Linked DNA regions of Homo sapiens: regions 1, 2, 3, 4, 5 and 6 are each linked to region 7. Evidence: fine-mapped expression QTL. A gene starts in region 7. Each other region holds a variant in brackets. All regions are shown on one strand. Distances are between the middles of the regions. Region 1 overlaps EPHA2 (EPH receptor A2). Region 2 has its middle 4.6 kb from the start of TRE-TTC4-1. Region 3 overlaps CROCC (ciliary rootlet coiled-coil, rootletin). Region 4 overlaps CROCC (ciliary rootlet coiled-coil, rootletin). Region 5 holds the start of TRN-GTT5-1 (tRNA-Asn (anticodon GTT) 5-1). Region 6 overlaps CROCC (ciliary rootlet coiled-coil, rootletin). Region 7 holds the start of CROCC (ciliary rootlet coiled-coil, rootletin).

The links. PIP is the estimated chance that this variant, and not a neighbour inherited with it, causes the effect.
Region 1: its variant is fine-mapped to the expression of CROCC in prefrontal cortex (GTEx, PIP above 0.99).
Region 2: its variant is fine-mapped to the expression of CROCC in lung (TOPMed, PIP above 0.99).
Region 3: its variant is fine-mapped to the expression of CROCC in whole blood (INTERVAL, PIP above 0.99). The same link has a PIP of 0.9 or more in follicular helper T cells.
Region 4: its variant is fine-mapped to the expression of CROCC in whole blood (INTERVAL, PIP above 0.99).
Region 5: its variant is fine-mapped to the expression of CROCC in whole blood (TOPMed, PIP above 0.99). The same link has a PIP of 0.9 or more in blood mononuclear cells.
Region 6: its variant is fine-mapped to the expression of CROCC in whole blood (INTERVAL, PIP above 0.99). The same link has a PIP of 0.9 or more in T cells and prefrontal cortex.

What each region holds. Positions count from the first base shown.
Region 1 is chr1:16,133,335-16,137,334 of GRCh38, forward strand. EPHA2 (EPH receptor A2) reads right to left here. Exons shown (of 17, transcript NM_004431.5): 6 at 2,321-2,436; 7 at 1,702-1,855; 8 at 1,134-1,233; 9 at 526-581; 10 at 147-272; 11 at 1-34. Among named protein-coding and RNA genes, the nearest start is that of EPHA2-AS1, 20 kb to the right of the region's middle. The variant G/A (reference allele first, on the strand shown) is at 2,171.
Region 2 is chr1:16,528,716-16,532,790 of GRCh38, forward strand. No RefSeq gene overlaps it. Among named protein-coding and RNA genes, the nearest start is that of TRE-TTC4-1, 4.6 kb to the right of the region's middle. RefSeq lists enhancers at 3,539-4,064, 4,065-4,075. The variant G/A (reference allele first, on the strand shown) is at 2,343.
Region 3 is chr1:16,961,553-16,965,627 of GRCh38, forward strand. All of the region lies in intron 27 of CROCC (ciliary rootlet coiled-coil, rootletin), which reads left to right. Among named protein-coding and RNA genes, the nearest start is that of MFAP2, 17 kb to the right of the region's middle. The variant C/T (reference allele first, on the strand shown) is at 1,864.
Region 4 is chr1:16,940,661-16,944,735 of GRCh38, forward strand. CROCC (ciliary rootlet coiled-coil, rootletin) reads left to right here. Exons shown (of 37, transcript NM_014675.5): 14 at 3,440-3,622. Among named protein-coding and RNA genes, the nearest start is that of CROCC, 21 kb to the left of the region's middle. The variant A/G (reference allele first, on the strand shown) is at 1,763.
Region 5 is chr1:16,518,234-16,522,308 of GRCh38, forward strand. It overlaps TRN-GTT5-1 (tRNA-Asn (anticodon GTT) 5-1), which reads right to left and starts at 2,425; the gene lies at 2,352-2,425. The variant C/A (reference allele first, on the strand shown) is at 1,764.
Region 6 is chr1:16,955,934-16,960,008 of GRCh38, forward strand. It overlaps CROCC (ciliary rootlet coiled-coil, rootletin), which reads left to right. Exons shown (of 37, transcript NM_014675.5): 25 at 64-223; 26 at 2,650-2,817. Among named protein-coding and RNA genes, the nearest start is that of MFAP2, 23 kb to the right of the region's middle. The variant T/C (reference allele first, on the strand shown) is at 2,066.
Region 7 is chr1:16,919,628-16,923,702 of GRCh38, forward strand. CROCC (ciliary rootlet coiled-coil, rootletin) reads left to right here and starts at 2,304. Exons shown (of 37, transcript NM_014675.5): 1 at 2,304-2,451; 2 at 3,036-3,171. The coding sequence starts at 2,392. RefSeq lists enhancers at 946-1,718, 1,719-2,490, 2,491-3,262, 3,263-4,034.

The DNA.
Region 1 (4,000 bases), 790 kb before region 7:
TTCAGCATGCCCTTGTACACCTCCCCAAACTCTCCTGTGGGCAGACAGGGTCAGGGGAGTGCCCTGGTCAGCCCCGGCATGAGGGCTCCCACACTGTGTCACCACCGCTGCCTCCTCAGGGCCCCTTGGCAGGGGGCCAACCTCACCTGCTCCGATCACCTTCTGCCGAGTGACACAGGATGGATGGATCTCGGTAGTGAACTTCAACACAGCCTGGTTGGGGTCCTCATATGTGTGGGGGTCCACGTATGTCTTCAGGGGCTTCAGTTGTTCTGGAAGGAGAAGGGGTGGGGTCACAGGCAGCTCAGGAGGGGCCCCATGGGGGGTGCTCTGGAGTCAGAGGAGAAGGTCACGTGATCTTCAGAGACTTGGACCAGGCTGTGGGGGACGGACCCCTCAGAGCTGCCCACGGAAGCCTGTGGCCCCACCCCAGTGCCCTGGGAACACCCTGGCTGCCCCCACCTCCCCCACAGAGCTGGGGACGGTGCGGGCAGGGCTGGGCCTGGAGCGGGGGCTGCGTCTCACCTGACTTGGAGAAGTAAACGTCCTCCGGGGACTGGCGGGCACGCTGGTTCTTCCTCCTGAAAGAGCCCCACGGGGAACCAAATGCAGGGAGGTCAGTGAGGTCTGCTCCGGCCAGGGAAGCCTCCTGGCCCTACTTTGGTCCTAGGAGGACCTGGGGTGCTCAGAATGCGGCCCAGTCCCCGCTTTTGCTGCCCAAGCTCCACTCTCAGGGCCGAGGGTGCGGAGAAGGCGGGTGGAGGAACAGGGAGGAAGTGAGCGAGCCAGGACTCCCTCTCCAGGATCTAGGCCCCAGAATGGCCCCTTAAGCAGTCGTGACGAAGGCATTCCCATTAGAGCTACTCGGGGATTCCTGCCTGCGTGTCCAGAGGAAGTGTGGACACATCATTAATAACAACAAGAGCAGAGGTAATGACCCCCGTGTCCCGGCCCCGCCGCGTGCCAGGCACTTCGCTACACACTCTAACTCGTATATCCTCGCACCATCCGGAGGCAGGGATTAGACTCGACTAGCATCCTGTGGGCCCCATCGTTCAGATGAGGAAATGGAGGTTCCTGCCCCATTTTCCCACCCAAGCCCATGTGGAGCCAGGGTATGGGCTCTGACGAACCTGCGGTGGATAAAGAAGCCAACTCCTGCCAGCACCAGAAGCAGGACCACACCGACAGCCACGCCGCCAATCACCGCCAAGTTGCCAGATCCCTCCGGGGCTGGTGGAAGAAATCAGCTGATGACAAGGGAGTTCCCCCACAAATTACAGCAACACCCGCGCTGCACCCAAGACACCTGGGCCCCTACTGTGTGCTGGGTGCTTGCACTTGGGAAGGCTCCAGAGGGTACTTAGTCCCATTTCATAGACGGTCAAGCGGAGGCCTTCCCGAAGGTCTCACGGGAGGTATTGCAGGTATGTGGGGCTCAAAGCTCTGGCTTTTTCTGAGATGCGGATTTGAACTTCCTCACACCACTGTCGTGAATCCACATCCCGGCTCCTCCACCCCTCAGCCTTCCATGCTTCCCCCTCCCCAGGCTTGGGGGCAGTCCCCGAAGGGCTGTCCCAGGCCGCCGGTGACCGAGAAAGGGGCATTTCTAAGTTATTTGATTCACTTCCTTTCCCAAGATGTCTCAATTGCTTGGTTCTGGGCCCTGGCCTGGTCCATGCCCAGGGTCCCCCAACTCACACAGCGTCTGGAATTCGTGCACCTTGCTGCCGGCCCCCTGGCCCTCCTGCGTCAGTGCCTGCACCTGGACCAGGTAGGTGGTGTCTGGGGCCAGGTCGTCCAGGGTCACGGAGAAACCCTCGGTGCGGCGCACATTGTAGCTGTTGGAGTCTCCCTGTGGGTGGGTGGCCGGCGGAGGAGCAGGCAGTGAGGGCAGGGCAGGGGCCTCGGCTCAGCCCGCTGGAGACCACCCCAAGCTAGCAAGGTGGCTTGCCTTTGTTAGCAAACTTGAGGCTCTTCTTACAGAGGAGGAAACTGAGGCTCGGAATTAAGTGACTCACTCAAGGTCAGAACCACTAAATGCATGAGCCAGGACTCAAACTGAGTGTGTGGGGTCCCAAAATTCTGCCCCTGTCCTCACCCTGACTGCCTCTTCCAAGGACGCCATGTCTTCTCTCGTACAAATCTCTGCTGTGCTGCCTTGGGAGAT[G/A]TAACCCCCTGGCAGACCCCAGGCCTCAGTTTCCCCATCTGCAGAAGGGTGCTTCTTCAGATGGCTGGGTGGTTTGGTGATCATCTATGTGACCAGCCTGTCCCCTGCTGTCGGCCCAGCTAGAGCCAGCCCCGCCCCTCTGGGAGTTACCTTCTTGCGGTAAGTGACCTCGTACTTCCACACTCGGCTCTGCTGCGGCGGGGGGATGCTCCAGGAGACGCTAAGCGAGGTGGTGCTGCGGCCCTCCAGCCTCACCTTGGGGGGCTCTGGGCAGGACAGGCAGTGGGGGAAGTGGGTAAGAAGCTGCCTACGAGCAGGCAGGGTTTGGGGGGACAAGTGGACGTGGAGCCACATCCTCCACAGCCCAGATTCTTTCATTTTTTTGAGACAGGATCTCGCTCTCTCACCCAGGCTCGAGTGCAGTGGCATGATCTCGGCCCACTACAGCTTTGAACTCCTGTGCTCAAGTGATCCTCCTGCCTCAGCTTCCTGAATAGCTGGGGCTACAGACACATGCTACTGTACCTGGCTAATTTTTGTATTTTTTGTAGAGATGGGGTCTCCCTATGTTGCCCATGCTGGTCTCAAATGCCTGAGCTCAAGCAATCCTCCTGCCTCAACCTCCCAAAATGCTGGGATTATGGGCGTGGTCACCACGCCCAGCTCCCAGGCTCTTTAGATCCCAACCTAGGATCCTAAACTTTCAGCTCCAGAGCACAGGGCCAGAGCCCCAGGCCTCCACCCTGGCCCCATCACAGGGGCTGGCACATCAGAGGTGCCCCATATTTACGAGTGCATAAATAATAATAATAATAATAATAATAATAATAAAAGGCCAGGTGTGGTGGTTCACCCCTGTAATCCCAGCACTTTGGGAGGCCGAGGCGGGAGGATTGCCTGAGGTTGGGAGTTCGAGACCAGCCTGACCAACATGGAGAAACCCCGTCTCTACTAAAAATACAAAATTAGCTGGGCATGGTGGCGCATGCCTGTAATCCCAGCTACTCAGGAGGCTGAGGCAGGAGAATCACTTGAATCCGGGATGCAGAGGTTGCGGTGAGCCAAGATTGTGCCATTGCACTCCAGCCTGGGCAACAAGAGCAAAACTCCGTCTCAAAAAAAAAGAAGAAGAAGAAGACAGAAGAAGAAAGAAGAAGAAAAGAAGAAAAGAAGAAGAAAGAAGAAGAGGAAGAAGAAGAAGAAGAAGAAAAGAAGAAGAAGAAGAAGAAGAAGAAGAAGAAGAAGAAGAAGAAGAAGAAGAAGAAGAAGAACTAACTTTTGCTGAATGCTTTCTTTTTTTTTTTTTCTTTTGAGACGGAGTTTCGCTCTTGTTGCCCAGGCTGGAGTGCAATGGTGCGATCTCGGCTCACCGCAACCTCCACCTCCTGGGTTCAAGCGATTCTCCTGCCTCAGCCTCCTGAGTAGCTGGGATTACAGGCATGCGCCACCACACCCAGCTAATTTTTTGTATTTTTAGTAGAGATGGGGTTTCTCCATGTTGGTCAGGCTGGTCTGGAACTCTCGACCTCAGGTGATCTGCCCACCTCAGCCTCCCAAAGTGCTGGGATTACAGGCATGAGCCACCGCGCCCAGTCTCAATTCTCAATTATTATCCCACTTTACAGGGGAGAACATTGAGGCCCAGAGAGGTTAAGTAACCTGCCCACAGTCACAGAGCTCAGAAGCGGCTCTGGAGCAGGAGTGTCCAATCTTTCAGCTTCTGTGGGCCATAATGGAAGAATGGTCTTGGGCCACAAATAAAATACAGCAACACTAACAACAGGTGATGAGCTAAAAAAAAAAAAAATTGCAGGCTGGGCGCAGTGGCTC
Region 2 (4,075 bases), 390 kb before region 7:
ATCAGCTCTTCAGCATACGTCCGTTTTCCTTGAAGGATGAGCCTGTAGAAACCTCTGACAATAAAGTTTATTTTACACCCATTCCCTTGCCTATGATTTTTTCATACAAATCACAATTATAAAACTTTCTTGCTCCAGCTAAAAGCAGGAAACTCAATCATGAATGTGTTCACTAAATATATACCACAGAATGATAACAACCAGTCTGATTGCATCACTTGATTCCAAAATTAAATGTTAGCCCTCAGGGGTGCAACTACATGTATCTCCAACTCTGGAAGCCACAGGCAACATATTCCTGTTTCCTTGCAGGGAAACAGATCTATAAGCAGGGCGGCAGTCTGACACATGTACATTCCTGGGAAACCCAAGGAAACAATGATAGTGACGCAGGGCAGGCAAGCCCCCAAACTGAAAGAGTTTTGCTAATGTCGCGATTGGCTTTCTATGTTATTTGAAGACTGAGATCTCCATGAGGAGTGAAGATAGGTAATGCCTAAGGCTGAGGCATGACCTCACTGGGTCACCTTAGCTGTAAAGTGAGGTCAGTTGTCACCTTGCAAACCTTTTGGTAATCCAAATCTTGGAATGATTTCTTTAAGAATTTAGACACTTCCAATACTTTTCCTGTCCTTGTGGGGAAAGCTTCTATCCACCTGGTGAAAGTGTCTATAAATACTAGCAAATCTTGTAGTCCCCTGTAAGGTGGCATCTGGTTTAAGTCTGTCTGCCAGTCTTCACCATGGTATGTTCCTTGGTGTTGTACAGGTTTAAGCAGGGATCGGGGTATGGGGTGGCTTCCTGAGTGGTAACCCTTTTTATAGTTTGGAACAGTCCCTTCCGCAAGAATATTTAGGAAACTAATTTAAATGGAAAATCCTGTCCCAAATGTGAGGAATCATGAAAATGTTTAATTATTTCCCATCTGTCAGCCTCAGGAATAGAGTTTGTTCTTTTCTAGCAACCATCCAGATGGGTCTCCCTGGAAGCCTTTTACTCAGTCCCTTTAATTTCCTTAGGGGTATATTATGGTGTCACTGACACGGATGGAGTACCTGGTAGTAGCGCAGCAGCCTGAAATACCAGGGTTTCCTTAGCTGTGGCCTTAGCTGCTCTTTCCACCAGGGAATTTCCTCTAATAATAAAAGTGTCTCCCTTCTGGTGTCCCCTGCGGTGAGTAATTGTTATTTCTTTGGGAGTTGGACAGCATCTAAAAGTTCCAAGATCTGAGTAAAGTTGTGTGGGGGATCCCTTGGCTCTTGATAGTCCCCTTTCCTTCCCTATGGCTGCATGAGCATGGAGCACCAGGAACCCATATTTAGAGTCAGTCAACACATTGACTCTTGAGGTTTTGTTCTTTTTTTTTCTTTTTTTGAAACGGAGTCTTGCTGTGTCGCCCAGGCTGGAGTGCAGTGGCATGATCTCAGCTCACTGCAATCTCAGCTCACTGCAAACTCAGGGATTCTCATGCCCCAGCCTCCCAAGTAGCTGGGATTACAGGCGACCCCCACCACACCCAGCTAATTTTTGTATTTTTAGTAGAGACGGGGTTTCGCCATGTTGGCTAGGCCGGTATAGAACTCCCAACCTCAGGTGATCCACCCACCTTGGCCTCCCAAAGTGCTGGGATTACAGGCGTGAGCCACCGTGTCCAGCTTAAGTCTTTTCATGGTTGGAAGGCCCTAATTAGAGCAGCTAATTCTGCTTTTTGAACAGAAGTCTGAGAAGGTAAACCCTTGGCCTCAAAAACTTCTTGTTGGCTAAGCTTCCTTTCTTACTCCCTCATGAATATAGCTATTTCCATCTCTAAACCACTCAACATTTGGGTTAGACAAGAGCTTGTCTTCAAGGTTGGGCCTTCTAGAGTAGAGCTCTTCCGTGGTTTCCACACAGGAGTCAATGAGTTTGGGATCTGTTTCTTGAGACGTGAGGTGCAGCAACAGAGTAGCAGGGTTTAAAAATCAGGACACTTTCAGGGTAACATCTGGGGTGTCAAGCAGAAGGGTCTGATATTTAAGTAACTGGCCCCCTGTTAGCCATTGGTGTACTTTTGCCTCTAGGACCCTCTGTACTGTACTTCATGGGGTGGCAGGGGGTGGGGGTGGGGGTGGGGTGGTATGGCATGTAATTGTTGTCCCAAGGTAAACTTACTGGTTTCGTCTAACGATAGAGTGATGGTAGTCACAGATCTCAAGCTTCTTGGTCACCTAGCTGCCACCTGGTCTAGCTGTTTAGAGAAATAAGCCACTGGTCCAAAGCAATTCCTCAGCCTTTGAGTTAGAACATTCGAAGCTGTCCCTTGTTATTCATCCACATAGAGGGTGAAAGGTTTTTCTAAGTTC[G/A]AGAGTCCTGAGGCAAGGGATGTCCCTGGCTTTTCTTTTAAGGCTAAGAATGCCTTTTGACAGGTTCCAAGCTCCGCCTCCTGGGTTCACACCATTCTTCCGCCTCAGCCTCCTGAGTAGCTGGGACTACAGGCGCCCGCCACCACAGCCAGCTAATTTTTTTGTATTTTTAGTAGAGACGGGGTTTCACCGTGTTAGCCAGGATGGTCTCTATCTCCTGACCTCCTGATCTACCCACCTCGGCCTCCCAAAGTGCTGGGATTACAGGCGTGAGCCACCGCACCCGGCCAACAAGTTTTTTTTTTTAAATGAACAGAGCATCAGTGAATGATAGTGCAAGTTTAAGACACCTAATAGACAAGTTAAAGGAGTCCTCCAGGCAGAAGGAAACTGACACCAGATGAAAATGTGGATGAAAAAAAAAAAGACACTAGAAATGACATCTACATAGGCAAATATATAATTTTAACATCTGACTGTTTAGCTGGGCACGATGGCTCACGCCTGGAATCCCGGCACTTTGGGAGGCCAAGGAAGGCGGATCACTTGAGGTCAGGAGTTCGAGACCAGCCTGGCCAATATGGTGAACCTTCCTCTCTACGAAAAATTCAAAAATTAGTCATATATGGTGGCGCAAGCCTGTAATCTCTGCTACTCAGGAGTCTGAGTCAGGAGAATCGCTCGAACCCGGAAAGCAGAGGTTGCAGTGAGCCAAGACTGTGCCACTGCACTCCAGCCTGTCCGATAGAGTAAGACTCGTCTTAAAAACACCACCACCAGCAACAAAAAAGCAAAAACAAACAAACAAACAAACAAACAAACAAACAAAAACACATCTGACTCTTGAAACAAAAGTAATAGAGATGGATTGTAAGGTTTATAACAGGTGTAAAGTAAAATGCATGACAATAGCATAAAGGCAGGGGGAGGAGTCATGTGAAGAGGTATGATGCCACTTGAAGGCAGACTGTGATGGGTTAATTTTTGTGGAAAGCAAGGCAGAATTTTTGAAGTTTGTTTCTTCAAATACTTTCTGTTTCCCGTACATACAAGCTAGTTTGTTCTGCAGAGATCTCATTTTCTAGGAGGCTCGGAGGGGGACCTTCTGCTGTCTGTCCTCATGGGATGCACAAGACACAAGGGAACAGTCTTTCACTTTTAAATACATTGATGGGTCTGAGGAGATAGATACAACTGCATTTTTTTTTTAAATGAGGTGGGATTCTCATTGGTCTTGAACTTCTGAGCTCAGTGGAGGCTTCCCCTACTTCAGCCTTTCAAAGCGTTGGGATTAATAGGCATGAGGCACTGCGCCTGGTCACAACCAACGTTTAAAATCACGTCCCTGGGTGGTCTGTAACCACCAACCTTATGGTTAACAGCCGAACGCGCTAACCGATTGCACCACAGAGACAACCTCAATCGCTTGCTTTCATCTCTATATAGATTAAGCAATCACTAAACCCTAGGAGTTGCCATTTGCTTTCTGCGGGACAACTGTGCAGACTACAAAGCTTCAGAAAACCGGAGAGGCTGAGTCGACTAATCGTGTTGTTGCACGTTAGAAACGCGTGCATTGCGTGACTCTGAAGCCAGAAGGGCGGCCGAATGGCCTTCACCCTGCGTTCACCCTCGCCTGCTTCAGAAGCCAGTGCCTCTGGAAATGCCTGGATCTGCGACCCCAGCCTGAGCCAAGTAGGGCCCAAGGGAAGCTGAACTCCCCGACGTCTCTC
Region 3 (4,075 bases), 42 kb after region 7:
AGCCACGGCACCCGGTCTAGGCCACTTATTTTTTTGGGGAAGTGGGGTGATTCTTTTTTTTCAACTTTTGAGACAGGATCTCACTCTGTCACCTCAGTTGAAGTGCAGTAGTGTGATCTTGGCTCCCTCTGCCTTGGCAGCCTGTGCCTCCTGGGCTCAAGTGATTCTCCCACCTCAACCTCCTTTGTAGCTGAGACTACAGGTGTGCACTACAATGTCTGCTTAATTTTTGTGTTTTTAGTAGAGATGGGGTTTTGCCATATTGCCCAGGCTAGTCTTGAACTCCTGGACTCAAGCGATCCTCCCACTGGGATTACAGGCGTGAGCCACCGTGCCTTTCCTGGACCGGGGGCTGGAGGGCTCTTAATGCCTTTGACTCCTTATCTGATTTTCTGAGCTTCCATCCTGCCATATACTCCCACATACTTTCAGTCATCTCTAGGTTACTTAGGATACCAAATACAGCTAAGTGGAAATCTTACACTTGTTACACTGTATTGTTTTTAATTATTCTTTTTGTTTTTTTTTGAGATGGCGTCTTGCTCTGTTGCCCAAGCTGGAGTGCAGTAGCACGATCTCGGCTCACTGCAACCTCTGCCTCCTGGGTTCAAGTGATTCTCCTGCCTCAGCCCCCTGAGTAGCTGGGAGACTACAGGCGTGTGCCACCACGCCTGGCTAATTTTTGTATTTTTAGTAGAGACGGGGTTTCAAGGCTGGGCGCGGTGGCTCATGCCTGTAATCCCAGCACTTTGGGAGGCAGAGGTGGGCGGATCACGAGGTCAGGAGATCGAGACCACAGTGAAACCCCGTCTCTACTAAAAATACAAAAAAAATTAGCTGGGCACAGTGGCAGGCACCTGTAGTCCCAGCTACTCGGGAGGCTGAGGCAGGAGAATGGCGTGAACCCGGAAGATGGAGCTTGCAGTGAGCTGAGATCCCGCCACTGCACTCCAGCCTGGGCGACAGAGCTAGACTCCGTCTCAAAAAAAAAAAAAAAAAAAAAAAAAAACAGGATTTCAGCATGTTGGTCAGGCTAGTCTTGAACTCCTGACCTTACGTGATCTGCCCACCTCAGCCTCCCAAAGTGCTGGGATTAAAGGCATGAGACACTGTGCCCGGCACACCTGGCTAATTTTTGTGTATGTGTGTGTGTGTATATAAATATACATATATATATATGTATATTTTTTTTTTTTAGGAGAGATGGGGTTTCACCATGTTGGACAGGCTGGTCTCAAACTCCTGACCTCCAGTCGGGATGATCTGGGAACAGATGATGGTGATGGCTGCACAACAGTGTGAATGTAATTCATGCCGCTCAGTTGTACACTTAAAAATGATGAAAATGGCCAGACACGTTGGCTCATGTTTGTAATCCCAGCACTCTGCGAGGCCGGAGCGGGTGGATCACTCGAGGCCAGGAGTTCAAGACCAGCCTAGCCAACATGGTGAAACCCTGTCTCTACTAAAAATACAAAAAATTAGTCAAGTGTGGTGGCAGACGCCTGTAATCCCAGCTACTCGGGAGGCTGAGGCAGGAGAATCTCTTGAAACCAGGAGGCAGAGGTTGTGGTGAGCCGAGATCGCACCATTGCACTCTAGACTGGGCAACAAGAGCGAAACTCCGTCTCAGAAAAAAAAAAAAAAAAAAAATTGGGCAAAGCCAAGGTAGGGGCTAGGGCAGTTCATGCGGGGGCAGCAGGTGCCTCACTGAGGAGGTGATGGGTAAGGGGAGAACGTGAGCGAGCAGCTGGGAGGGGGACTCGGGGCGAGTAGGGAGGTCCTGAGTGGAGGTGCGCCTGTCCTGTGGACAGCAGGGGCCAGCAGTCCCAGAGCATCAAGCAGGGGGGTGAGATTTGGGGA[C/T]GAAGGGCTTGCTCCAATAGACATTATAGGCCTCTACGGGGACTTTTACCCTGAGACGATGGGACCTTCTAGAGCTGGAGGCCCCCAGGGGCAGGCCTGCTTCTTTGGGAACCTCTGAGCGAGGCCTTTTGGGTGGTGACCAAGTTCATGGCTGCGGAGCAGTTTTGGTGTCCCTCTGCGGCCAAGGCAGGATGCTCATGGCAGGACCCGTGTCCTGCAGTTCCAGTGCCAGCCTCCAGGTAGTGCCCTGGTTCCACCCGCCCTGCCCCCTCCACCTCCCCGGGCCATCACTCCAAGCAGGAGTGCTGCCAGGGAGTCGGGCTGCCTGGATTCCCATCTCAGCCCTGAAACTTCCCAGCATTGAGAACAACCAAATCACTTTGTTTTTGTTTTTTTTTGAGCCCAAGTCTCGCTCTATTGCCTATGCTGGAGTGCAATGGCGCGATCTCGACTCACTGCAACCTCCGCCTGCTGGGTTCAAGCGATTCTCCTGCCTCAGCCTCCTGAGTAGCTGGGACTACAGGCGTGCACCACTGCACCCAGCTAATTTTTTGTATTTTTAGTAGAGATGGGGGTTTCACCATGTTGGCCAGGCTGGTCTTGAACTCCTGACCTCAGGTGATCTGCCCGCCTCGGCCTCCCACCAGAGTGCTGGGATTACAGGTCTGAGCCACCGTGCCGGGCCCACTTTTTTCTTTTTCTTTTCTTTTCTTTTTTCTTTATTTTTTTTTTTTTTTGAGACAGAGTCTCTCTCTGTTGCCCAGGCTGGAGTGCAGCACAGTCTCAGCTCACTACAACCTCTGTCTCCAGGGTTCAAGTGCTTTTCCTGCCTCAGCCTCCAGACCTCAGCCTCCCAGGTAGCTGGGACTATAAGCGTGGGCCACCATGCTCAGCTAATTTTTCTCTTTTCTTTTCTTTTCTTTTCCTTTCTTTTCCTTCCTTCCTTACTTTCTTTTCTTTTCTTTCCTCTTCTTTCTTCTTTTTTTTGACCGAGTCTCACTCTGTTGCCCAGGCTGGAGTGTAATGGTGCAGTCTTAGCTCACTGCAACCTCTGCCTCCCAGGTCCCAGTTCAAGCAATTCTCCTGCCTCAGCCTCCTGAGTAGCTGGGATTACAGGCGCCCGCCACCACACCTAATTTTTGTATTTTTAGTAGAGACGGGTTTTCACCATGTTGGCCAGGCCGGTCTCGAACTGCTGACCTCGTGATCTGCCCACCTCGGCATCCCAAAGTGCTGGGATTACAGGTGTGAGCCACTGCTCCCAGTCTTTTCTTTCTTCTTTTTTTGAGACGGAGTCTCGCTGTGTTACCCAGGCTGGAGTGCAGCGGTTCGATTAGGAACACTGCGAGCTCCGCTTCCCGGGTTTAAGCAATTCTCCAACCTCAGCTTCTCGAATAGCTGGGATTACAGGTGCATGCCACCACGCCCAGCTAATTTTTGTATTTTTAGTAGAGATGGGGTTTCACTAGTTGGCAGGCTGGTCTCGAACTCCTGACCTCAGGTGATCCACCTGCCTTGGCCTCCCAGAGTGCTGGGATTACAGGCATGAGACACCGCACCTGGCCAATTTTTGTATTTTCAGTAGAGACGGGGTTTTACCATGTTGGCCAGGCTTGCCTTGAACTCCTGACCTCAAGTGATCCGCCTGCCTCGGACCCCACAGTGCTGGGATTACAGGTGTGAGCCACCACACCCAGTCAACAGAACAAGCAAATCACTTAACTGCTTTGTGCCAGCCTTGCCTGGGAAGAGGGTAAATTGTTCCTTACCTGTCAGGAAGTTGTTGTGAAGATGAAGTGCCTAGCACAGTGGGCACTCAGTATGGAGAGACTTGAGGTGATGCAGCAACCACCCTTGCACTGGGCCCTGGGAACAGTGGTGGATGGAAGAGACGAGGCCCAGCCCTCATGGTGCTCCTGGTCGGGGTGGGGGTGGCAGACATCAGACCCCGCTGAGGGTGGGATGAGCTCACTGTAATCCAGCCTGTGGCCAGAGAGGCCTCTGAGGGAGAGGGATGGCCCTAAAGGATGGGCCAGGCAAAGAGAGGCCATGGGGAGAAGGGGAGCAGCATGTACAGAGGCCCTGGAGCTGGGACAAAGAATGTTCTAGAACATGGGAGATGCAGGGTGGCCAGTTTGTAAAGGGTGAGAGGGTTTCAGCTGGGATGGGCAAGAAGACCCCTAAGCTATAGCAGAGAAGTTGGGCTTGATTC
Region 4 (4,075 bases), 21 kb after region 7:
TACAGGCATGAGCCACCGCGCCCGGCCAACATTTATTTTTTAGTATTCAGTTTTGTTTTGTTTTGTTTTGTTTTGCTTTGTTTTGAGTCACACTCTTGCTCTGTTTCCCAGGCTGGGGCACAATTGGTCCATCACAGCTCACTGTAACCTGGAACTCCCAGACTCAAGCGATCCTCCCACCTCTACCTCCCAACTGCCCCTAGTTGGGGGCCTGGGCCTGGCCTGGGGAAGGATATGGGACCGAAGCCTGAGAGTTAGGTTTCCACTCCCTTCCTCTGTGCCCTCACCACCCTCTGAGCCCTCACCTCCCTGGGTTCCTGGGCAACTCTGATCTCAGCCTCGAGGATAGTAGACAAGCCGCCAACATTTCTAAATTTTTTGTAGAGATGGGGGTCTCACTATGTTGCCCATGCTGGTCTTGAACTCCTAGCTTCAATCACTCCTCCCACCTCAGCCTCCCAAATTGCTGGGATTACAGGCATAAGCCACTGTGCCTGGCTCTATTAAAATTTAATTAAAATTTTTAAAAAGTGAAAATTCAGGCTGGGTGTGGTGGCTCACACCCAGCTTGCTGGCCAACATGGTGAAACCCTGTTTCTACTAAAAATACAAAAATTAACCAGGCATGGTGGCATGCTCCTGTAATCCCAGCTATTCAGGAGGCTGAGGTGGGAGAATCACTTGAACCCCGGAGGCAGAGGTTGCAATGAGCCAGGATCGTGCCACTGCACTCCAGGCTGGGAGATAGAGCGAGACTCCATCTCAAAAAAAAAATAATAATAATAATGCTGGGCCCGGTGGCTCACACCTGTAATCTCAGCACTTTGGAAGGCCAAGGCGGGCGGATCATGAGGTCAGGAGATTGAGACCATCCTGGCTAACACAGTGAAACCCCGTCTCTACTAAAAATACAAAAAGTAAATTAGCTGGGCGTGGTGGCAGGCACCTATAGTCCCAGCTACTTGGAAGACTGAGGCAGGAGAATGGCCTGAACCCGGGAGGCGGAGCTGGCAGCGAGCCGAGATGGCGCCACTGCACTCCAGCCTGAGCGACAGAGCAAGACTCCGTCTCAAAAAAAAAAAAAAAAGAAAAAATTCAGTTCTTTAGTTGCCCTAGCCACATTTCAAGCACTCATCAACCATACATGGCCATAGAACATTTCTGTCATCTCAGCGAGTTCTATTGCCAGCACTATTTTGGACTGTATTTCTTGGAGTTTTTTTTAGAGATGGGGTCTTGCTGTGTTGCCCAGGATGGTCTCAAACTCCTGGCCTCAAGTGATTCCCCTGCCTCGGCCTCCAAAAATGCTGGGATTAGAGGCATAAGCCACCATGCCTAGCCTTGAAGATTTTTTTTTTCTCTTAATTTGAGACAGGGTCTTGTTATGTCACCCAGTCTGGAGTGCAGTGGTGCGATCTCATTTCACTGCAACCTCCACCTCCTAGGCTTAAGTGATCCTTCCATCTCAGCCTCCTGAGTAGCTGGAACTACAGGCACACACCACCACGCCTGCCTAATTTTTCTGTTTTTTGTAGAGATAGGGTTTCGCCATGTTGCCCAGGCTGATCTCTAACTCCTGAGCCCGTCTCGGCCTCCCAAAGTACTGGGATTATAGGTGTGAGCCATCACGCCAGGCACCCTGAAGATTTTTAAGACAAGAAATTATCCACTTCTTAGCTGCCAGGTTGTTTTTGATATTTTGTTGTTTGGTTTTTCTCTTCATAAATGTAACCATCTAATGAAAAGTTTGAAAAATAGGAAT[A/G]AAAAGACAGCGCCTTCTCACAGCCTCATCTGCCCATCCTAATTCATTTAGGGCACTGGTTTTCCTTCCCATTGTGTTGCCTGGCAGTGAGATAGCAAACGTTTCCTGCACACCTACTGTGTGCCAGGCTCTTGGCCGAGTGTTTTGTATGTACTCTGTGATTTAGTCTTCCTGTCAAACTCATGCAATTCGGAACTCTGTTGTTGTAAGCTTGAGAGACTGGCTCAGACTCATACAGCGTGTGTGGCTGGGGGTGGCAGGGTGGGAACTGGAATTCAGGTCCATGTGAGAGTAAACCCAAGCTTTCCATGCCTGGAAAGGAGAAGGTCTTTTTAAGCAGTTGTGTTCACAGCAAACATCCCATTTTGCATTCTGCTATTTTTACTTAACAGCACATTGTCGACTGAGCGAGGTGGCTCACACCTGTAATCCCAGTATTTTGGGAGGCCAAGGCGGGTGGATCACTTGAGGTCAGGAGTTTGAGACCAGCCTGGCCAACATGGCGAAACCCCATCTCTACTAAAAATAAAAAAAAATTGGCCGGGCACAGTGGCTCACTCCTGTAATCCCAGCACTTTGGGAGGCCGAGGCAGGAGGACCACCTGAGGTCGGGAGTTCGAGACCAGCCTGACCAACATGGAGAAACCCTGTCTCTACTAAAAATACAAAATTAGCCATCCGTGGTGGCACATGGCTGTAATCCCAGCTACTTGGGAGGCTGAGGCAGGAGAATCGCTTGAACTCTGGAGGTGGAGGTTGCAGCAAGCCGAGATCGTGCACTGCACTCCAGCCTGGGCGACAGAGTGAGATGCCGTCTAAAAAAAAAAAAAAATTACTGGGCGCATTGGCTCATGCCTGTAATCCCAGCACTTTGGGAGGCCGAGGCGGGCAGGTCATGAGGTCAGAAGATTGAGACCATCCTGGCTAACACAGTGAAACCCCCATCTCTACTAAAAATACAACAAATTACCCGGACATGGTGGCGGGCGCCTGTATTCCCAGCTACTTGGGAGGCTGAGGCAGGAGAATGGCGTGAACCCGGGAGGCGGAGCTTGCAGTGAGTGGAGATTGCGCTACTGCACTCCAGCCTGGGGGACAGAGCGAGACTCCGTCTCAAAAAAAAAAAATAAAACAAAATCACGCTGTGAAGTTTTTTCGCACCTATGGCCAGTGGGGAACGTGGCAGCTCATGGCAAGTCTTTGGGGTCCCAGTTGTTCCCTTCTCCTCCCTCCCCTGCCGTGGCCACCATGTGCCTGTGTAGCAGGAAGCTGTGGGATCTGCAGACTCAGCTCTATCAGGCTTCCCAGAATTGAGGGGCATGGGGTGTTATAGGGGACATTTCCTGGTCACATGGCCTAGCAGAGCTGGTGGCACAATTGCCGTGTGTCCCAGGAGCCTAGCTCGGCCTCTTCTACCTGGTAGGGTGCTTGGAGATCACACCAGCACCTCCATCCACTCCAAGTGGGCGGACTGGAGAGAAGGAAAGCCAGGTTCTTCTGCTGGAGTGTGTGAGTGAAATGAGTCAGCCATGGACAGGGTGGTCAGGGAAGGCTTCCTGGAGGCAGGTGCCTTGGAAGACTGGAGGATGTAGCTCATGGCTAGAGGAGCAGCCAGCCACCTTCCCTGCAGAGAGCAGCCCCAGCATCCCCTCTGCTCCCCCTCCCCTTGTCCTGAAGGGAGAAGAGCAACCTGGCCCACAGCCTGCAGGTGGCCCAGCAGCAGGCCGAGGAGCTGCGGCAGGAGCGGGAGAAGCTGCAGGCTGCCCAGGAGGAGCTGCGGCGCCAGCGGGACCGGCTGGAGGAAGAGCAGGAGGACGCAGTGCAGGATGGCGCGCGGGTGCGCCGGGAGCTTGAGCGCAGGTGAGCAGCATCTCGCCACCCTGCCAGGACCCTTCAGATGTGCCTCGGGTCCCCTGACAGTGCCCCCCTGGGGTTAGGTGACACCCACTGGGTCCTGGGCCTCCTACCGTCTGGACCCCTCCGATGTCGGGTTTTCTAACCAGACCCATTTCAGGAAACTGGGGCTCAGGGAGGTATAGTCACTTACCTGGAGTCAGAGAACTAGTTAAAAGGTAGAACTTGGATGATAATAACAAGAATAATTAAAATAACAGTAGTAATATTAGCAGTAGTATTTTAAAAATTTAGTTAGAAGAATAATAATATCCTTACTAATTTCACTAAGTGCCAGATACCATTTTAAGCAATTCAGTTCTCTCATTTAACTCCATGATAACTCTGTGACATAGAAGCGGTTATCTCCATTTTGTGGATGGTAAACTGAGGCACAGAGAAGCCATGTCACTTGCCCCA
Region 5 (4,075 bases), 400 kb before region 7:
CTGCAGAGAATCTGCATTAATCCAGCTTTATCTTGTCAGGTTTGAGAAATAAAAATAAGCCCTAGGCCCTACAACCAACTGAATGGACTCCCTCTTGGCTGACAGGACCACAGAGAAACTTCGAAAGCAGTTTCTGGATGTGGCAGGCTAGGAGGTTGGACATGCCACCTCAAAACCCTCCCCTCACTAACTGCCATTATGATGCAGGAGAACAGCAGAGGGAATTGGAAGTTGGATAAAAGGCAGAGTGAGTGAAAGCAGAGAAAGAAGCAAGGTGATGGGGTGGGAGAGCAAGAAGCAAGATATAAGGCAGAAGTTGAGCAGCCAAAACAAAAAGTAAGATTTAAAAAAGCAAGCAAGGCTGGGCACGGTGGCTCATGCCTGTAATCCCAGCACTTTGGGAGGCCAAGGCAGGCAGATCACCTGAGGTCAGGAGTTTGAGACCAGCCTGGCCAACATGGCGAAACCCCATCTCTACTAAAAATACAAAAAATTAGCTGGGCGTGGTGGTGCACTCCTGTACTCCCAGCTACTTGGGAGGCTGAGACAGGAGCATCGCTTGAACCCGGGAGGCAGAGGTTGCAGTGAGCCGAGATTGCACCACTACACTCCAGACTGTGCAACAGAGCGAGACTCTGTCTCAAAAAAAAAAAAAAAAAAGAAAAGCAAGCCAGGACCCCATGGCCGGTGAGATCCAAACCAGTAAAGGGGCAGCTCCTCAGAGATAGGCATGTGCATTAGAGAAAAAAAGTATCCTTAACATGACTCCATATGATAATCAGCTCATTAAAACTCATGCATATGGACTGCACATCATGCATGTACTTAAAATTATGGGATGGAGGCAATGTGCAAGCACACAAGGGCCAAAGTAACTAAGCAACCCACCTATCAATCAAAAGGCAAACACTGGCTAACGATTAGGCATCCTTGGGAAGAGAAGAGAAAGAAACACACATAAAAAGACCCAACGTACACCAAACTAATACTGATCTCACATCCCAGAGATCAGCCCACTCTCCCCACTCTGAGACTGTTACTGTGCTTAATAAATTTTGCTTTGCTTTGCTGCTTTGTGTGTGTCATGTACAGTTCTTTGTTTGGGACACCAAGAGCCTGGAAATGCACGGCACCATCTGGCAAGAATTAGGATTTTTTTTCCTAAGGGTTAACAATCCAAGCCTTTGGAGAGACTTGCTTCACTGCTGTTATCAACCAACAGCCTGATGCTTTCCCTCCCTTTTGTGGTTTTGACAAAACAAGCAAGCAGCATTCCCTCCTGATAAGAGACCACCGACCTAGGAATCATTCTGGCCAGACTACAGAGGATGTACAGTGAGGGTTTTCATGTCCATTGCCTCAGATTTTGACGTCAGAGGGCCACAAACTCCACTCTCAGATGATTGCTAACGCCACCATTTTATGAACATGAGCCCCATGGAGAGGCACGCAGCTCAACTGCACATCTGCACATTTTTCCTCTTATAAACATTCATATTGGAATATTATTTGGTACTGCTCCCGTGAAAGATACATTTGCAGAATGGACTCAGATTAGAAGCATTATACAAGCACTATAATGTAGCAATGGCACATCCAGCTCTCTACACTATAGAAATGTCTGCAGGGTAAACATTTCCACAATGACCAAAGATATCTGTACAGGACTGGTGACTGCAGCATTCTTTGTAATCCTAAAACTATGAAACTAAAGTCATCTCAAAAACATTTTGTTTTTTTGAGATGGAGTCTCGCTCTGATAC[C/A]CAGGCAGTGCAGCGGTGTGATCTCAGCTCACTGCAGCCTCCACCTCCCAAGTTCAAACGATTTTCCTGCCTCAGCCTCCCGAGTAGCTGGGATTACAGGTGCATGCCACCATACCTGGCTAACAAAAACATTTTGAAAAGGGTTAAATAAATCATGCATAAACTGAGGAAAAATACTATTTTCAAAAATGATGGAGAGAATCACTTTCATGATGAATGATTCCACTGGTCACATTATTGATAGAGCAATCAGGAAACCCAGGCACATCCTGGAGGTAATACTGGACTCCTATTACTAAAATATGAAAAAATGGAGACACGTAAATACTCGTTTAAGCGTATAACGGACTGAATTAGAATTTTATCACATCAGAAGTGGGTTCCTAGGTCTCTGTTTCAGGATTCCTTAGTGACACAGGTGTAAACCCGGCATTTCAGGAGATAGCCGGCTAAGAATCTGGTCGGGGAGGTGGGCGGCCCTTGACATGGATCTGTCATAAATTAGTGGCTTGAGACTTTGGGAAGATAAAATCTTCCCCATTTATCTAGTGATTGACATTGCGTGAATGCTTCAAAAGTTCCAATAAGCGTCCCTGGGTGGGCTCGAACCACCAACCTTTCAGTTAACAGCCGAACGCGCTAACCGATTGCGCCACAGAGACAAGCGCTTCCAACTCTACTGGGCATCTAGGAAGGGCGCACTCACTGAACTTCCTCCGTTCCGTCTATTCTCAGGGCCCACCGGGCAGGACCACTGAGCAAGGCCTTGGAAAACCAGAGAGATTAGAGCGGTGAGTCGCGCCGGTCACGTTGGACGCCTGCGTGTTAGGAGATTCTGGAGCCAGAAGAACAGCAGAATTGCCTTCGCCCGCCCTGCCCCTCGCCTGCTGCAGAAGCTTCCAGAAACTCCCTGGTGGGCGACCCAGCCCGAGCTGCCTGGGGCCCCAAGGGAAGCTGAACGCCCTGTGGGCTCCTGGGATGGTTCTTCCCGTTCTTTGCGCCGCCTTCACCCATTGAAGGAGCCTGTGCCCACCCTGCCCAGTCGCTTTCCGGGCCGCTGAGGAGCTTCCGCTGCCATCTTCGGATCCTGTGTTCCGCACGGGGGCTCCACCAGGGCAGGGATGGTGGTGAGGGTCGCTCGTGGGTCCCCTCGCGGGGAGCAGGGTCTGGTACTCACCAGGGCGCACGACTAGGACTTGTGGAATGAATTCATCGTCGCCTTTAGCTTTTAGTCCTTTGAAGAGCCCTGAGAGTGGAAATCAAGAGATTTTTTCCACGGGGAAGTTCTTTTTACAAAGCGTTGATTTCTCGGCACCCGGCAGGGAGGGCAACTGGCAGGGTCTCTGGCGCACCTTCTGCGCGGTGGAGCCACGGGGGCTCAGCTGGGCGGTGGTGCGGCCGTGGGGTGGTAGGTCAAGAGCTGGGAAAGGAAAAAGCAAAAGCTGGGAAAGAAGCCGGGGAGCGGTGGACCAGACATCCAGACCTCCTGAAAGGCTCATGAAGGGGCACAGGCAGGATCTTCTGGAAGTGAGAATTGTTTTGTTTGTTTGTTTGTTTATTGTAGTAGAATGGGGAAATGGAGAGAGAACCTGAAAGAGCCCCAAACTCGAGGACCTATTGCTCCCCAAGAATAACATCTTCCAGAAGAACTAGACAGAAAACTAGGCGTCTGGGAACTCTGAAATCCTTGGAGGAGTAGCATCATCATGACCCTCTGTGTTCCTTTTGGCAAAGGACTTGCTCCCATTGTTTGCTTGTTCAATTGTCTGTCCGTTAAATAAATAAAACCCTTTTCCTATATCTTTAAAATTACGTTGGTTTTATCATTTTATGATTACAAGTAATGCTGCAGTCATCATTCTTGTACACTCTCATTGGCCACTGGTGTATTTCTATAGGGTGGAGGCCTGGAGAGTAGTTGTTCCAGCATAGTGTTTACATAGCTTTTATTTCATTCCGTTTTCTTTCCTTTGTTGCTTTATTAGCTATAACCGTTTTCTTATTTCAGAGGCTGCTTTAGGGTTTCCGGAATACATCTTTAATTTATCATAGTCTGCTTTCTAGTGTCATTATGCCTCCCTTTCTGGCCTTTATCCTAGTGTTATGTATCTTTACTTTATGCACTATAACCTTTGTGATTCATTATTATTACTTTTATTTGTTACGTCAAATATTTTTTGAAAGATTTAAATTATAAGAAAACGTGTAGTACATGCTTTCTAAATGCCATTTCCAATATTCGTTTCTTTGTGTAGGACCACATTTTTATCTGGTATCCTTTTGCTTCTGCCTGGAGGACGCAAGATTTCTTG
Region 6 (4,075 bases), 36 kb after region 7:
TTTGTGTAGAGCCACTGACTACTCCCAGGACCCAGGGCAGCCCCTGACCTCTGCCCTCTCCAGCCTGAAGCTTGCCAATGAGGACAAGGAGCAGAAGCTGGCACTCCTAGAGGAGGCACGGACAGCTGTGGGCAAGGAGGCCGGGGAGCTGCGAACTGGGCTGCAGGAGGTGGAGCGCTCACGGCTGGAGGCTCGGCGGGAGCTGCAGGAGCTCCGGCGTCAGGTACTCTCCCTGTGCCACCCCTTAGCCTGGGGCTTGCTGTGTGCCCCGGGCCAATAGCTCCCCCTTTCTGGAATTACGTTTCTACCCCTATGTAAAACCAGGGGCTTGAACTATGACAAGCCCTCTCACCTAACCTTGGTGTGAATGGATGGGCTTTGAGGAGTCCTTGAATCCCTGAAACTGTGCAAAAGTCTGCGTGCATTTGTGTGCACACTCAGGCTCACATTTCTGCAAGGAGAGGAGCTGGTGTCCTTGTCCAGTTCTCAAAGGAATCTGCAAACAACAAAAGGTACAGATTTTGTGAACTAGGTCAGAGGTTGGCAAATGGTTTTTTGTAAAGAGCCCAAATGGTCAATATTTCCAGCTTTACGGGCCACACAGTCTCTGTTGCAACTACTTGACTCTGCTGGGGTAGTGAGAAAGCAGTCCCAAACAGTGCATGAACAGAGGGGTGTGGGTTCCAGTAAAACTTTGTTTAGGGACACTGAAATGTGAATTTTCTGTCATTTTCATGTGTCAAGAAATGTTGTTCTTCCTTTAGAAATGATCCATTTTCGATGATTTAAAAATGTAAAAAAAAAAAAAAATCCTTAACTCAGACCCTTGTAGAAACGGGAGATGGGCTGAATTTGGCCTGTGAGCTGTAGTTCGCTGACCCGTGAATTCGATGATCTGCAAACTCAACAGCAGCATGTATTGAAGAAGCACCTGCTGTCTACTGGGCACTGGCCTGGACACTGTGGGTTCAGGCTTCTCACTCTAGAAGATGCAAAGAACAGGAAATGGCCTCATTCAGCCCCTAGGCGCTGCCTCACCCAGAGATATCACAACCAGGCCAGGCGCAGTGGCTCACACCTATAATCTCAGCACTTTGGGAGGCGGAGGCCAGTGGATTGCTTGAGCCCAGGAGTTCGAGACCAGCCTGGGTAACATGGTGAAAACCTGTCTCTACTAAAAATACGAAAAATTAGCCAGCTGTGATGGCTCATGCCTTTAATCTCATGCTTTGGGAGGCCAAGTTGGGAGGACTGCTTGAGCCTAGGAGTTCAAGACCAGCCCAGGCAACATAGTGAGAACCAGTCTCTACAAAAAATTTAAAAAATAGCTAGGTGTGGTGACACGCTCCTGGAGTCCCAGCTACTTGGGAGGCTGAGGTGGGAGTATCCCTTGAGCCCAGGAAGTCAAGGCTGCAGTGAGCTGTGATCGCATCACCGCACTCCAGCCTGGGCGACAAAGCAAGACCCTGACTCTAAAAAAAGTTTTTAAACTTTTAATTTTTATTTTATTTATTTATTTACTTTCTGAGATGGAGTTTCACTCTTGTTGCCCAGGCTGGAGTGCAGTGGCGCAATCTCGGCTCACTGCAACCTCCGCCTCCCGGGTTCAAGTAATTCTCCTGACTCAGCCTCCCAAGTAGCTGGGATTACAGATGCCCGCCACCACACCTGGCTAATTTTTTTGTATTTTTAGTAGAGACAGGGTTTCACCATGTGGGCCAGGCTGGTCTCGAACTCCTGATGTCAGGTGATCCACCCACCTTGGCCTCCCAAAGTGCTGGGATTACAGGCATGAGCCACGATGCCTGGCCCCCCCAAATTTTTTTAATTAAAAAAATTGTTTTTAATTACAAAAAAAGAGATCACAACTGGATAGCCAGAGATATTCTGATACTCTGATAGCCAGAGATACCACAGCCCCCTTCACCCAGGCCCCTTCCTGAGAAACCACAAGACTCCCGGAAAGGAGCTGGCATTTGCGTGCCAGCTTTTGCTGGACGCGTTGCATGCTACGGCCTCTCCTGTTACCCCTGCTGTAGCACATGGGGGAGGTAGGCAGTACCCC[T/C]CCCTGCTCCTGTGGGGAAATAGGGGCTTAGAACATTGCCGTTGTCTCAGATCGAATCCCAGTCTGGTGTGTGTGGGCTGTGTGACTTTGGGGAGGTTACTCTGACACTCTGAGGCTCAGTTTTCTCATCTGTTAGATAGGGATAATGTTACTACCTACCTCATATAGCATTGTACCAAGATTAAACGAGTTAATATAACTGAAGTGCTTAGAACAGGACTGGACACATGGTAAGCGCTCCAAAAACGTTCATCGCCATCGTAGAGGGGAAAGATAACCCAGGGAGCTGTGGTTCCTGCCTGTGAACTCCTGGTCTGCTAAGGGCTGAGCCCTCCTTCTATTATACCCACCCCTTTATGAAAGGTAGTTTTGGCCCATTGATTAAGTGGTAAACAGGCCACTGGTGCCCAAGTGCCTGGCATCGCCCAAGTTCAGTGTGGTTGTGTAGGGGCCGGCTCCCAGTGGATGTGGGGTGGTATTTGATACATGTGTCCCTACAGCAGTAGGTACCAAGTGGCCTTGGGCCAGAACTGGGAGGGTACAGGGGCAGAGCTGAACCTGCTGCCATTCCCGTGCTCTCACAGATGAAGATGCTGGACAGTGAGAACACCAGACTGGGCCGGGAGCTGGCGGAGCTGCAGGGCCGCCTGGCGCTGGGCGAGCGGGCAGAGAAGGAGAGCAGGCGGGAGACCCTGGGCCTCCGGCAGAGGCTGCTGAAGGGCGAGGCCAGCCTGGAGGTGATGCGGCAGGAGGTAACTGAGCAGGCGGGCAGGCTGGTGCATCTTTCCTTCCCCCAGCAGGAAGCAGGTGGGCACCCCAATGCTGGGGCCATTCTGAAAGGCCACTCCCTAGGGCTTGCTCCTTCCCCCACTCCTTGAGACTCTTCCCCAGTTGTAGTAACAACAACCCAAAGAACAGTGGGCCTACTGTGTGCCGGCACAAAATGGGTAGGGAGAGGCCCTGTAGATACAACCTTGTTTGATTTCCCCAGCAGCCCTATGGGGTAGGTACTGTTAGCCCTTTTTATTTAGTTATTTATTTTGAAATGGAGTCTCACTCTGTCGCCCAGGCTGGAGTGCGCTGGCACCATCTCGGCTCACTGCAACCTCCGCCTCCTGGGTTCAAGCAATTCTTCTGCCTCAGCCTCCCGAGTATCTGGGATTACAGGTGCTTGCCACCACGCCCAGCTAATTTTTTGTATTTTTAGTAGAGACAGGATTTCACCATGTTGGTCAGGCTTGTCTCAAACGCCTGACCTCAGGTGATCCACCTGCCTCGGCCTCCCAAAGTGCTGGGATTACAGGTGTGAGCCACCACACCCTTCCTACCATTAGCCCCATTTTACAGAGCCCTCAGAGAGGTCGAGGGATCTACCCAAGGTCACACAGCCACCTAAGTCTGTCTGACTCCAAAGCCCACAGGCTACCCGCTCTGCCTTTTCCGGCTGTTTCATTGCCATGAATCTGTTGTGTGGCCTGAACCAAGTCACGTCATCTCTGTGCCTCAGAGCGCTCATGAGAGATGGGCTAGCACAGCCGAGCATGTATGAAGGGCCCTGGCACAGGTCCTGGCAACCAGCTGCTCAGTAGATGGGTTTCCAGTGAAACTGGTGACCGTGAGAGGTTGACTCTCTAAATGGCAGGGGTGGCTTTGTGTCTGTGTGACCATGCATCCCATCAGGAAATGATATTTTAGTGCATGCCCCCATTGTGTGCAAATTTATTGATAAATTATGGGCAAGGGCGGCAATGTAGCCTAGTGGTTAAGGGAACAGCCTCTGGACACAGCTCCCTTTGGAACCAGTGGGCACTTAACCTTCCTGGCTGTTCACTGTGTTCTCAAGTGCAGCCCACAGCCCCCGTGTGGCCCCGTGTGGTATGCCTCCCCGCCTTTCCCCCACCCCCCAGGGCTGTGAGTACATGTGATTAATAAGCTGCTGTCAAGCTATTAAAAACAAAAAACAAAAAAAAAAACAGAAACAAAAACAGCCGGGCGCAGTGGCTCACACCT
Region 7 (4,075 bases):
GGCTTACAACTCTAAGGGCAGGAGCCCAGACACGTGATGCTAATGACAATAGGAACAGTGGCCCCCATTGGCTAATAGCTCACCACCTGCCAGGTGTGGTAGGTACTATCAGTCGCATTTTTTTGTTGTTTTTGGTAGGACAGAGTCTCGCTATGTTGCCCAGGCTGGTCTCAAACTCCTGGGCTCAAGCGATTCTCCCATTTTGGCCTCCCAAAGTGCTGGGATTATAGACCTGAATCACCACACTCGGTCTAGTCTCATTTTATTTTATTTTATTTTTTTGAGACAGACTCTTGCCCTGTCACCCAGGCTGGAGTGCTGTGGCACAATCTCGGCTCACTGCAACCTCCTCCTCCTGGGTTCAAGTGATTCCCCTGCCTCAGCCTCCTGAGTAGCTAGGATTATATGCACATGCCACCACGCCCCAGCTAATTTTTTTTATATTTATTTATTTATTTATTTATATTTTTGAGACGGAGTCTTACTGTGTCGCCAGGCTGGAGTGCAGTGGCATGATCTCGCCTCACTGCAACCTCTGCCTCCCAGGTTCAAGCGATTCTCCTGACTCAGCCTCCCAGGTAGCTGGGACTACAGGTGTGCACCACCATGCCTAGCTAATTTTTGTATTTTTAATAGAGACGGGGTTTCACCATGTAGGCCAGGATGGTCTTAATCTCTTGACCTCCTGATCCGCCTGCCTCAGCATCCCAAAGTGCTGGGATTACAGGCCAATTCTTGTATTTTTAGTAGAGATGGGGTTTCACTATGTTGGCCAGGCTGGTCTCAAACTCCTGACCTCAAGTGATCTGCCCGCCTCAGCCTCCCAAAGTGCTGGAATTAGAGGCTTGAGCCACTGCACCTGGCCTGGTTTAGTCTCCTTTTAGAGATGAGAAAACTGAGGCTCAGGGAGGTAACCTGTTCAAGGTCTTACTGTCTTGAACACCATAGTTGCAAGTGACAGAGCTGAGTCTCACATGCAACCTCAGACCTGATACTGACTCCAGAGCTGTGCGCCTAAGCACTAGAGCACATAGCCTCCTTGCCCCAGGGAAAGAACAATGGGAGGTGGTGGGTGACCTCTGGGTCTCAGGGCCCTGGGATATAGGGACTGTGCCTTTTTTTTTTTTTTTTTTGAGACAAAGTTCCACTCTTGTTGCCCAGGCTGGAGTGCAATGGCGCGATCTTGGCTCACTGCAACCTCTGCCTCCTGAGTTCAATCGATTCTCCTGCCTCAGCCTCCCAAGTAGCTGGGATTACAGGTGTGCACCACCACACCCGGCTAATTTTTGTATTTTTGGTAGAGACGGGGTTTCACCATATTGGTCAGGCTGATCTTGAACTCCTGACCTCAGGTGATCCACCCGCTTTGTCCTCCCAAAATGCCGAGATTACAGGCATGAGTGCCTGCGCCTGGCTGGGACTGTACCTTCTGGATTTTCAAATGAATGAAATGAGTATTTCTTGAGTGTTGGCCACGTGACCCCCCAGCACCATGTCATGTGCTGGGTATGCACACACGATACTGTTTCATCCCCGGACGGCTCCGAGAGATGAGTACCAATATTATCACATCTTACGTAAGAGGACACTGAGTCTCAGAGAGGCAAAGTCAGTGTCCCTGGTGCACCCAGCTAGTGGGGGCTGGGGTGGGTGTGAAGGGGCCAGAAGCTTCCCAATAAGTGCCTGAAGGGCAAGGCTAGGGCATTTGTAGTTCGAGGCTCTACCACTGTGTCTAGGTCAGACCTAGGAATGCCGCAGGTGTTGCATAAATGCTCATCAGTCCAGGCTGGACCGCTCATGCCCAACTAAGTGCCAAGCCTGGCCTGGGTGATCTCACAGCCTGCATTCTTTGCCCTACACCTGTTGTGGGAAAACATACTCCCAGCATGCTGTAAATCCTCTCATTCTTAGCTAACCATGTGACTCCCGTTCTGGGCCAGAAAGATGGTCACAAATACTTAGGACTCTGGCCTTTCCCGCCGCATGGCTACTGACCCCACCCCCTGGGCTTGGAGGGCTCTAGGACCCAGCAACCTGCGCAGGGTGAAGAGTGTGTGAGGTCCTGACCTCCAGGTGTCTCCCCTGTTTCCTCCTCCCATTCCCTCTTCTCTCTCCTCCCTCCTTTTCTCTCCCTTCTCCTCCCCTCTCTTCATCCTTCCTCTTCCTTTGGCTCCCTGCCTCTGCTTCCCTCCTCTCCTGTCCTTTCCCATCCCCTCCCTCCTCAGCCCACATCCTGCTCCTCCCACCGCGGTGGTCACATGGGGGCGCCGCCGGATTTAAGCTTAATCTGCCTGGTGCTCAGCACAGCATCCTGGCTGTGGCGCGTGCTGACTGAGCTAGTCTTGGGGTCCTGGAGAAGGGGGCTGGAGGCATGCCCACAGCCTCCCCCCCATGAGCTTGGGGCTGGCGGGGGCACAGGAGGTGGAGCTGACACTAGAGACGGTTATCCAGGTGGGTCCTGGGGGCTGTGCCCACCCTGTCTGGGGCGGGGCAGCGTGGACTTAACAGGAGTGGTGAGAGGTGTGTGCGTCTTGGGGATCAAGGGGTGGGAGAGGTGTGGTGGTGGTGGGGTATACAGGGGCCCCCCGCTTGCAGTTCCTGGCAAGATGGGGGGCAGAGGTACACACAGGGTGCACCTGCTGTGGCTCCCTCATCCCAGTGCCCTGGGTTGGGAGAAGGGGGTCTCTACTGCCAGATTTTAGGGCTTGGGGGACCTCTGGCATAGCCAGATCCTCATCCATCTAGGGTCGGAACCGGATTGGGGCCCCCAACACTGGACTGCCTCCAGTGGGGTTTGGGAGTTACCCGTAGGGTTTGGTTCTCATCTCTGGCCCTGGGCCTTCTTCCTGGGGCAGTGAGCACACAAGAGGCTCTTTGCATGGGGATTTTTTGGATTCTAACTCCCAGGCTTCACTCCATCTTGAGGGGGCTCCTGGGGACCTGTATCTTGGGCAGTAGGATTCTGTGGCTCTCCCCACGAGGCCAGGGAGCCCCGGGTCCCATGTCCCCTGAAGACCCTCTCGCTTTTCCCACAGACACTGGAGAGCAGCGTCCTGTGCCAGGAGAAAGGCTTGGGCGCGCGGGACCTGGCCCAGGACGCTCAGATCACCAGCCTGCCTGCCCTTATCAGGGAGATTGTCACCCGCAACCTCTCCCAGCCTGAGAGCCCAGGTGCCACCCCCATCCGCTCCCCTCCACAAACACCACCCACATTTTACCTCTTCTCATGTCCCTTTCCTGAGCAGTCACCATGATGATCATGACTGTAACTCACTGTGGGGCAGGCACAGCTTTATGACAGAAGAACCCATTTTACAGATGAGGAAACAGAGGCTCAGGGATGTAATTTGTCCAGACTTATTCCGCATGTGGTGCAACTAGAAGGAAGGGCCGAGCATCTCCTGCGTGCTTGCCTGTAGCCTGCTGCAGAGATGTGAACCCCAAATCCCGTATTCCCACCCGGGGAAGGTGTGAGCTGGCTGAACCCAAGATACAGGAAGAGGGCAGCTCAGCTCAGACCAGGGTTTTGCGGAAGTCTGAGTGGATGGCGCCGTCCATCCGTTTCCCACGTGGGCAGGAAGGCGGATGGTCCCTGCTCCTCTCAGTGGGTGGCGCACACGGTGTAGTTATGTGGCTTGAGGATCTGGGAAAGGCACACTCAGTTGCAGCTGGTGTGCTGGCGTGTGGCGTTTTGGTGCTCTAACCATTGTCTGTGTTCAACTCCCAAGCTACAGACGGGCCCCCTCCTTGGGAGCGCCAGGGATGTTGGCGCCCTGGAGCCCCAGACAGGGAGAGACTCAGAGGGCCCTCACCCTGACACCTGGGGTGTATGTCCAGTTCTCCCAGGGTAGAAGGGGAACCCACAGGAGGTGGACAACCCCGCTTCTCCCGCTGGCCTTTCTTTCCCTCTTCTCTCTTTCTCCTTCTCCTCACAACCTGACCTATGCTATGCTCTCCTGAGCCCTAGCCTTTAAAGTTCCATGAAGCCCTTCTCTTGAGCGAGGCTTTGATGCTTTTCTGGGAGGATCTGGTTACTACTATTCTACCTTTTTTTTTTTTTTTTTTTTTTTTGAGA